2 separate regions of the Homo sapiens genome follow, and region 1 is linked to region 2. The links come from fine-mapping of genetic effects on gene expression. A gene starts in region 2. The other region holds a variant in brackets. All regions are shown on one strand. Distances are between the middles of the regions. Region 1 overlaps ATRN (attractin). Region 2 holds the start of ATRN (attractin).

Evidence for each region.
Region 1: its variant is fine-mapped to the expression of ATRN in whole blood (TOPMed, PIP 0.93).

What each region holds. Positions count from the first base shown.
Region 1 is chr20:3,612,886-3,618,258 of GRCh38, reverse strand. All of the region lies in intron 24 of ATRN (attractin), which reads right to left. Among named protein-coding and RNA genes, the nearest start is that of GFRA4, 48 kb to the left of the region's middle. The variant C/T (reference allele first, on the strand shown) is at 2,362.
Region 2 is chr20:3,468,234-3,473,606 of GRCh38, reverse strand. ATRN (attractin) reads right to left here and starts at 2,589. Exons shown (of 29, transcript NM_139321.3): 1 at 2,090-2,589. The coding sequence starts at 2,499. RefSeq lists a silencer at 2,203-2,762 and an enhancer at 2,863-3,002.

The DNA.
Region 1 (5,373 bases), 140 kb before region 2:
TTTTGGTCATCAGCCCCGCCCCTCCCTCCAGTATATATCACTGCTCTTAGTGCCTCTGTTAGTTCCTGTGCCATTATCCTGAGGGTGACAGTGATGGAAAGATGCCACCACAGATAGGAAGTGGACATGACTCTCTGGGATATGGGGAGACGATGTGCCTGTTACCCACACACAGCTACAAGATCAGAAGACAATGCAGCCATAGCCCACTGAAGGGCGGCTTCCCAGGCCCCACAGGGAGGAGCCCTCAGACCCTGATGCACCTGTGCGTCGGGGTGAAGGCAGGAGGCTTGCTGGGAAGCTCCGTTTTCCATTCTCACCAAGACAGGTGGGCTGGTTTGAGGGAGAGGGAGTTTTGCCCCTGACCCCTGAGTGTTCTAGAGACTGTCCACTGTTAACTGGTAAAACCCCCGTACAATGCTGTGTACTTCCTGTAAAGGCGAACAGAACTTCAGCTCCAGGGTGCACTATGCTCCAGGCCCGCCCAGCAGAGGCATGCTCCTGTAGCTGTCTGTAGGAGGCCAAATCATATACTCATACCTTTATTTCTTCTTCTACCACCTGTATTATTCTTTTCATTGTGTAATTTTTTTTCTTTTTTAGTAGGGATGGGGGTCTCACTATATTGCCCAGGCTGGTCTCGAACTCCTGGCTTCAAGTGATCCTTCCGTCTCAGGCTCTCAAAGTGCTGGGATTACAGACATGAGCTACCATGCTCAGCTTCTTTTTCATTTTGGAAAATCTTAAGCTTTTTAAAAAGTAGAAAGAGCACTATAATGAACCTCACACGCTCATCATCCTGCTTTAGTAAATTATCAGCTCAAGGCCAACCTTGTTTCATCCACACTACACTTACTTTCCCTATGATCATATTATTTTGAAGCATTCCCCAGACCCAATCATTTCCCTCTTAACTATTTCAATATTGACAGGAGCACTGAACTTTCTTCTTTGTAAAATTTGGATGTTTATGTCCTCAGCCCTCCCTTTTCTTCTATCTTCTAACTCTCTGGACAAAATTCTAACCAACAACAATCCAATCTTCTAACTCCACGCTGTGTAGACTGAGATAACAGATTCTTGGTTGCCAACCTCAGCCAGCCCATAGCACTGGTCAGCAATTGTTCTGACAATATCAGAAAAAGGTGTCGGCTCCTTTATAAAAGTTATAAAAGTTGTAAAAAAGAAAAAGTTCTGATACCTACCGTAAAGCCCTTATACTAACAACTATATACTCATCTGGCATACATTTAGGGAGTATCTCCAACTGATTAGCACATGACACTGAGGACACTGAGGGATAAAAATGCGATCCTTGCCATTAAGAAATCTTCGTATAGTGGAAACAGACACTCTGCTGTGGAGGTGCAGAGGAGGAAAGGAAGTTGCTATGGGATGTGTGTCATCAGATGGTCCCCTTCCCTGGGTTTCTACACAAGAATTCCACCTGGACTCCCTGGACTCCTGGACCTCCTAAGTCCTCCCAGGACTTAGGCCTGGCTCCTTCCAATCCACACTCCCAACTGCTGCCAGTGGGGTCTTTCTAAACACTGATCGTCGGTGACTTTTCGGCCTAAAACATCTCAACAATTCCCAGTCACATCAGGACTCAAGTTCACAGCCTGCAATCTCCAGTCTCTTCATAATGGCCCTCCCCAGCTCTCCACCTTCTTGCTCATAGCACTGTCACCAGCTCTGCTAAACTCCTGGTAGTTCCTGAAAGGGCTGGTCATTTCCTTTCCCCACCACGAACACCCCCTTCCCCCGCCCCCATGCTCCTTAGGAATCAGCTCTGGTGTGATCTCTCTTAACTTGGACTCAGGTGACACAGGGCACTCCCCTCCCCTCTCATGGCTCCCAGGAATGCATGGGCACACCTCCAACACCGAGCTTCTAACGAGGTGCCTGCTGTCCACTCACAGCTGCTGCTCTGGGCCAGAAAGTCTGCTGGCTGAATGAATTTTAAGGAAGTCTAGTGGGTTCCTGGCTCTGGAGATCACAGGAGAGAAGTCTGCTAGAGACAAAGATTTACCTGTCCAGCCAAAGGCAATGTTCCCAGATGGTGTGGATGAGATTGCCCAGGGAAAAAGAGTCCAGATGAAACCCAAGGGAACAATAGCATTAAAGAGCTGACAAGAGACAACCAAAGCGAAAGCTGAAAAGCAGGGGACTTTCGAGACAAAGGAATAACACATTTTTCTTTTTTTTTTTTTTAATTATACTTTAAGTTTTAGGGTACATGTGCACAACATGCAGGTTTGTTACATATGTATACATATGCCATGTTGGTGTGCTGCACCCATTAACTCGTCATTTAACATTAGGTATATCCCCTAATGCTATCCCTTCCCCTTCCCCCCA[C/T]CCCACAACAGGCCCTGGTGTGTGATGTTCCCCTTCCTGTGTCCATGCGTCCTCATTGTTCAGTTTGCACCTATGAATGAGAACAAGCGGTGTTCAGTTTTTTGTCCTTGCGATAGTTTGCTGAGAATGATGGGGGCAACATGGTAAAACCCTGTCTCTACTAAAATACAAAAAATTAGCTGGGCGTGGTGAAGTGTTCCTGTAGTCCCAGCTACTCGCAAGGCTGAGGCACGAGAATCACTTGAACCCAGGAGGCAGATGTTGCAGCGAGCCAAGATTGCACCACTGTACTCCAGCCTGGGCGACAGAGTGAGACTCTGTCTCCAAAAAAAAAAAAAAAGAAAAAAGAAAAAAGAAAAGAATTAAACTGTACTTAAAAGCATGTGTCTTTCTTTGTTTCAAACTATATTTAAGGTTCTTGTACAGCCTTGTGGGTTTCATCATAAAGAAAAATTTTTTTTTTTTTTGGAGACAGGAGTCTTGCTCTGTCGCTCAGGCTGCAGTACAGTGGTGCAATCTTGGCTCGCTGCAACATCTGCCTCCTGGGTTCAAGTGATTCTTGTGCCTCAGCCTTGCAAGTAGCTGGGACTACAGGAACACTTCACCACGCCCAGCTAATTTTTTGTACTTTAGTAGAGACAGGGTTTTACTATGTTGCCCAGCCTGGTCTCAAACTCCTGAGCTAAAGCGATCTGCCCGCCTCGGCCTCCCTAAGTGCTAGAATTACAGCACAACCATATAATTCTTAAAACTCTTAAGATACAGACAATTAACACCAGGAGGTACGGATATGCACTGTTATTATACAATAAATATAAACATTAAAAGTATATCTGACACTATTCATAATAGCCAAAGAGTGAAAACCACCCAAGCATCCATCGATAGAAAAATGGATAAACAAAACGTGGTATATACATATAAGGAAGATTATTCAGCTATGACAAGGAATAAGTACTGAAACATACTAAACACGGGTGAACCTTGAAAACAGTATGCTAAGTGAGAGCATATCATGTGACTCAATTTATATAAAATGTCCAGAATAGGCAAATCCACAGAGACAGGAAATACAGACTGGGGGTTGCCGGAAGAGGGGGGAATGAGGACTGACTGCTAGGGGCTTCTTCTGGAAGTGGTGAAAATATTCTAAAATTGGCTGTAGTGACGGGTGGCTGCACGCTTCTGTGAATACACTGAAAACCACTGAATTGTGTACTTTAAATGAGCGAACTGTATGGTATGTAAATGATGTCTCAATAAAGCTGTTATAAGAAAAAAAGCACATCCAAGTGAACAAAAGTTTCACACATCCCTTGCTCAGTATAGCGATCCTGTTAGCACCCATAAACAGAACTCTAAAATCTAAATGAATGCCCAGTTCTCAATACCAATTCTGTGTTGCCTTTACTTGTGAACACTGGCCTCTTACATAAAACAGTAGATGAAACACCCAGCACGCAGACTTCTATATTAGCTCCACATTACAGTAACAACCTCTGTTGCAGAGTCGGGAACGAGCCAGAGCCTCACCACTCCACCTTCCCACCTCACACACTTTCTGTCCAACCATCTTCTATCTTGAATACCTACCGCCCACGCCCCCAAACTATGGACATAGCTGAAGCCGGCTGAGCCCCGGCTTACTGGGGAGAACAACTAGGATAGCTTTCAGAAAGCAGGGGCAGAGGGAAGGGTGCTCACCCACAGGAACAACCAATCAAAAAACAGGCACAACCGGCCCCAACACACCCGCCACCCTCCCAGAAACAGGACTTTTCAGTCTGTGGGTTTTGTTTGTTTTTTAGCTGCATCTACAAAGATTTTTATAGTCAGTTTCAAATTCCCTCAGCAGTTATAGGTTTTGATCTGTTCCTAATTATGGAAAAGAATCCTGGGATTGGTTCAGAGTGAAGGAACTTGAGTTTAGTATTACCATTTTTAAAGCCCCAATGCTTACACAAATTTCCAACTAGAGAATTAGATTTCCTCAGTTACTTTGCTTTAAAAAAATGAGAATCTCAATTTTTAAAATCTCATTTAAAAAATGAGAATCTCAATTTTTAAAATCTCATTTAAAAAAGGAGAATCTCAATTTTTAAAATCTCATTTAAAAAAGGAGAATCTCAATTTTTAAAATCTCATTTAAAAAAGGAGAATCTCAATTTTTAAAATCTCATTTAAAAAAGGAGAATCTCAATTTTTAAAATCTAATTTAAAAAATGAGAATCAAAGGCAAAACGGCTTTGCCTGCATCGAAAGCCATACTGAAATTTAACTGAATGGCCTACACTGCACTATTTAGACATTTCCCTACTGTCTTCCTTAAATAAGTCTCTCCATTTTTACTGAATTTGCACAGTTGCTAAATGTGTGTATTTAAGAGCCATGCTACACACCTAGAAAAGCTAAGTCTCTGGGGAAAAAACAGCAATAAAGAAACATGCAGCCCTTGTTGAGAACATGATGTATTTACCCAGGAAGACACGAGCTCAGCCCTCCACATAGCGCACAGCCAGATACGGTCCCCAAAGCAGAGAGAACCAGTGTCAACCAGGCTCTCATGCGAGGACTGAGAACACACGGTGACACGGGCCTAGTCACAGTGAATAGTGCAGTCATTTGTACCAAACAGCAAAAAGACACGTTTGCAATAGAACTTACCTGCGTTTTCAAGGAAAGCTTGGCAAACTAAATGGTGGGCATGCCATCGTTTATTTTCACAAGTGCTCCTGAATGCAGCATTCATAAGTGGATCTTAATTTAAGTTAGTGATCCAGAAAAGATAAGGAGCACCAGAAAACCAGGAAGAAAATCAACATCTCCTTGATTATGAAACTTAAAATTATTACTTCTTAGAAGTAAGTGTGGGGAAGAGCTCCCTCTAGAATGAAAGCTCTAAAACCACTTCAGTGACTTTCAGAGGGTGGAGCAATAGGGAACTGGGAGGAAAAAAACTCGGCATTGGCAACAAGTATGGCCATCTCCAGCACAAAAGCCTGCTTATAGGCA
Region 2 (5,373 bases):
CCATTTGTATTCTGGCTCCAATCTAAAAGCCTATAATGTCATGAAAATAGGCGTGAACTACGCCATTTCACAGCTCTTGGGCTAAAGGTCAAAATTCTCAATCCAACCCACAGATCTCCACTTGGCCTGGCTTCCCGCCTTTCTCTCCAGTCTTGCCAAGCTCCCCTTTGCTCTCTCTGCTCCTGCCACCTGGCCTTCCATCCGCTTCAACCCCAAGCCTCTGTACCTGCTGGCCCCTCAGCACCCCACCCCTCACGCAGGTAGTACCATCTCACCCCTCAGACTTCACATCGCTTCCTCAGTGACTTACCTTACCCCTAGACTAAGTCAAGTCCTCTGTTTGTCTCCTGCTCTTTACCTCCACAGCCTTAAACAAAATTACAATAAAATTTTTGTTGGATTTTTTTACTCCCAAGCTGAAATGTGAGCTCCGTAAGAGCAGGACTGTGCCTGTCTTGTATACCACTGTATCTCACAACCTAAAACATAGGAGCCCTCAACAAATACATGTAGGTTAATGGAATTCATAAATCAGAACACCCTAAGTTACAAAAGCAGCTTCACTGCATCAGTGGTCCTGAAGTAACTTGGTTTCTCCATCCATAAAACTAAAGAGCTCATCTGCTCAACGTTCTCTGAGTTCCTCAGAAGACCTAATATTACCTAAGTCTACAATTTTGCTATTCCAAACTCCTCTCTCACAACTCTCTTCCACATAGGCAGCAGCAAAACTTTACTTTCCAGCCTCCACAACTTTGTTTGCACCCTTCTTTCCATCTGTAATTTTTTTCCAGCTCCACATTTCCAAATCCTACTTAACCTTACATGCTCAAATCCAATGTTACCGCCTCCTCAAAGTCCTCCTTGCATCCCTCCAGCTAGCCACAACCTCTCCATCCCTGAATTCCCACAAGTTCCCTGTTGCCTCATTCAGGTCTCAGATCAAATGTCATTTCAAATGAGAACCCTCTCCAAGAGTCACCACCGGTTATAATTCTCTATCAGACCACGCTGTTTTTATTTTCTTGATAGCATTTACCATTACCTGAAATTACCATGTTTATTTCTCTCATTTATTTACTTGTTAAGTGCCTGTTGCTCCCACTAGAATGTTAAGGTCAATGAGAGCAGAGGCCCTGTCTGTCTTGTTCACATTTCCCCACTCCCCCACATCAGACATGTGTTCAGTAAGCTAAATACCTGTCAAAGGCGTGAATGACTCTGTAACCCTTATGACTAGGGTTATGTGCGCACATTATCTTTCTCTTGCTATATTCCAAACTCCCTGTGGACAAGGCCAAAGTCTGGCTAATCTGTCTGTATTATCTGGAAAATCATTGCACAACTGAAGCAAATAACGATAACTGCTAATTAATTTATTGATTTCTCCAAGAGGAACTGCCCCAAACTAAGCCAATTCAGAACTTCATATTGTCCAGAAACCAAGGCAAATAGGAATCTCCTTCCATTCCCTCTTCACCACAGACCCTATTCCAATTTGCCACCTCCAGGGAGCTTTTGCCAAAAGGCTAGTTTCCTCACTTTCCTTTAGAAGGACCACTGGTCCTTCTATCCCTAATATCTTACAATGCTACCCTTTCCCTTTTATCTCCAGCCAACAAAGCATTTCCAGGGCCCTGTTTCTTCAGAGCACCCCACATCTCCAGTGCATCGGGGAACTCATCGGGTCCTAGGGCACATGTGGATGTTAAAAGGAAGTGTTCAAGCAAACCTGGCTCGACCACCTTTCCTTGGATACCTCGTTTAGCTGAAACACGCCGAGTTTTAGAGCGATCGGCTTTGATGCTCTTTGGGTCCCTCAGCATTCTTCCCATCTAACTAACCTAAGCACCCAAATACCGTCGGGGTGCCCCCACCCTTGCCCCACACCTTTTCACCTTCCAACAGAGAAAGACCCCAGGCCAGAGACGATGATCTCCCCGGAAGCAAATGGCCCTCAAACCCCATAGGGCGGCCCTACCCTCTCCACTTTCTGTCCAGCATCTCCCTCTGACCTGGAGCCGTCTCGAACGCCCCTCAGCCCCAGCCTCTGGTTGGACCCGACCCTCCGACACCACCCGCCACTCACCTGAAGCGGCCCCCGCAGTGCTGGCATTGCTCGCCCACCCAGCCGGCGGGGCAGACGCACTGGCCGGTGCCAGGGTTGCAGCGACCGCCGTTGACACAGGGCCGGTCACATTCCTTGGCCTCGGCTGCGGCTGAGCCCGACACCGCCGCCGCCGCCGCCGCGGCCTCGGCCTCACAGGGCAGCAGCAGCAGCAGCAGCGGCGGCGAGAGCAACAACAGCAGCAGCAGCAGCCGTGGCCGCAGCGGTGGAGACAGCAGCCGCGGGAGGCGCAGCCCGGCCCCCAGCCCCGGCCTCCCAGCCCTGGTCACGTCCCAGTCCCAGTGCGGCCCGCCGCTCCTGCCCGCGAGCGCTGCCGTCGCCGCCGTCCTCCTCCTCAGCCTTGCCTCAGTTGCCGCCGCTGCAGCCACCATCTTCCCGGGGCTGAGACGGCGCCCCGCGAACACATACACACACACCGCACGGCCGGCTCCGCTTCGCCTGGCCGTGCGGGGCGGGGCTGTGCGGACGGTGGCTCGTGCGGTCCAAAGGGGCCACAGCGGGGCGGTGGGCGGGGCCGGCGCGCGCGTGCGCGAGTACGTGGGTGCGTGCGTGCGGGGGCGCAGACAGTGGTCTCCGGCGTCCGCGGCGCCGGAGGCGATCTTCTGACGTGGACCGTAGAACGAGCTGAAACCCGGCTGCGCTGTCCCGGCCGGCGAAAGCTCTAGTTTTCCCCCTTCGCCTTTCGTCCCCGGCGGCGGGGTTGCAGCCCCACTGGATGCCTAGGAGCCGACTGCGTTGAGTGTTGCCCTCCTAGAGACCCGGCACTCTGCCCTAACTCCAGCTGCCGGACGGAAAGGGTACAGGAGGCTGCATCGCAGCGAGGTGCTGGGTGCGGTACTGTAGAAGCCAGGCTTCATTCGAGCCTCTGTAACACAAGAGTCAAGAAAGAACACATGTAGAACCTGGCATAGGCCGGGCGCGGAGGCTTACGCCTGTAATCCCAGCACTTTGGGAAACTGAGGCAGGCGGATCACTTGATCTCTGGGATCCGAGACCAGCCTGGCCAACAGGGTGAGACACTGTCTCTACTAAAAATACAAAAATTAGCCGAGCATGGTGGTGCGCGCCTGTATCCCCAGCTACTCCAGAGGCTGAGGCAGGAGGATCGCTTGAGTCTGGAGAGGTCAAGGCTGCAGTGAGCCGCAGTCGCAGCACTGCACTCCAGCCTGGGCAACACAAGACCCTGTGTCAAAAAATGAAGAACCTGGCATGTAGGCTGTGCTCAGTAAATGCCTAATAAACTGAATGAAGACACACAGCCAGGCCTCTTGATAACAGATGGACTGTAGCTGACCAGACCCCCTACCTTTAATTCTGTAAAAGTTTGGAGTTACCTTGCTCCCCACAATTTGCCCTCCAACCATCTTCTCTGAAGAGTGGGCAATATAGAATTAGGAAATGGCGCTCACACAGACCTGCCCCTTCTTGTCTGGTAGTTGTTACTCTGGTGTCCCTCAATGAGACATGTCTTCCATCAATGTAGCCTTTTATGGTCCTTGACCCTGGAATCTGGGCTGGGTCATGATTGAGACCATGAGAAACCATGACTCAATTTCACCAATAGAAGAAGTTGGTAGGAGTAGCAATGTCTTGTTTCTAGCTCTGAGCTTAAAAAAGACCTGGCAGCCTTGGCCGGGCACGGTGGCTCACGTCTGTAATCCCAGCACCTTGGGAGGCCGAGGCGGGCAGATCACGAGGTCAGAAGTTCGAGACCACCCTGATCGACGTGGTGAAACCCTGTCTCTACAAAAAATACAAAAATTAGCCGGGCGTGGTGGCACACACCTGTAATCCCAGCTACTCAGGAGAGTCGCTTGAATCCAGGAGGCAGAGGTTGCAGAGAGTCGTGATCGCGCCACTGCACTCCAGCCTGGGGGACAGAGCGAGACTCTGTCTCAAAAAAAAAAAAAGACCTGGCAGCCTTGATTTTGAGCTGTTGGTGGTCATGAGCTGCACCCCGTTAGCCACCTTGCTGGAGAGAAACCATGTGCAGAGACCACTTGGACTTGGAGAGGGAGAGCTGGGCCGCTCAGCTGGTGGAGCCATCCTAGCTAAGGGATCAGTCATTGAGTGAAGAAGCTATCTGGGTTGGGTTATTCCAACCGTCTGGGCTGTTCCATGTTACCTACAACAGTAACAGGTCTTTCCTAACTGTGACTTATCCAAAATCCTAAGAAATAACTCATTTATCATTTAACCCTTAAGTGATGAATTATTTATAATTTTTCATAAATTATGATTTATGTTATTTTAAGCCTCTAAGTTTTAGAGAGGTTTGTTACTCAGTAATAGATAAGCAGAACATTGTCCGACATAATGCTTGTGCTATGAGGAATATTCCTATGGCACCTACCTCAGAATCTGGGCACCTTACAGTCCCTGGGAAACAAAGAAAAACCCTCATAGACCTGTGGAGCCTCTCAGCTTTACCTCAGAGTATGGAATTTTAAGGTTCTAAGATGGATTTCCACACTCATACCCAGGTCCCACTCTCATACTCAGGTCCTGACTGTCCTCACTGCATCTTCTTCAAGCCTGGTGAAGCTGAATTGCACAAAAGCCTTACCCCCAGCTCTACATCCACACATACTCCCCATTCCTACAGGAAAACTATTGTTCGGCCTAGGCCCTAGCACTGACATTCTGGTTTGCAGGTTATGTTTTTGCCATGTAGGATTTTGAAATTGAAGACATGGCCCTACCCTCTGGCAGGACCCCATCAGATGGGGAGGCTGGCATAGGCCATGCCCTAGCTGTAGGAGACATTGCTCCCCCTAATCTTCCAGGCCAGAAGTGAACCAGCCCTTTCCTTCCCTTCCCTCCCCACAGCAAGACTGAACCCACACTGTGAAGTTTCACATGATTTTACCAACATTCAGGGATAACAGAAAAGGTGTGCATCTGAAGAACAGCAATCCCTAGACTAGATATTGCTACTCTGAAGCCTTAGAATCTTGCTGCAGCAAACATTCTTTCTTACTTCCTTAATCTACTCTCTTCTCTGGTTCTTTTTCCTTAGCTTTCAAACATGCTCAAATTATTTTGTCCTTAAAAAACAAACACGCTGGGTGCAGTGGCTCATGCCTGTAATCCCAGTGCTTTGGGAGGCCAAGGTGGGAGGATCACCTGAGGCCAGGAGTTTGAGACCAGCCTGGACAACATAGTGAGACCTTGTCTCTACAAAAAATTTTTTAAAAAATTAGTCAGATGTGGTGGCGTGCATGTGTAGTCCCAGCTACTTGGGA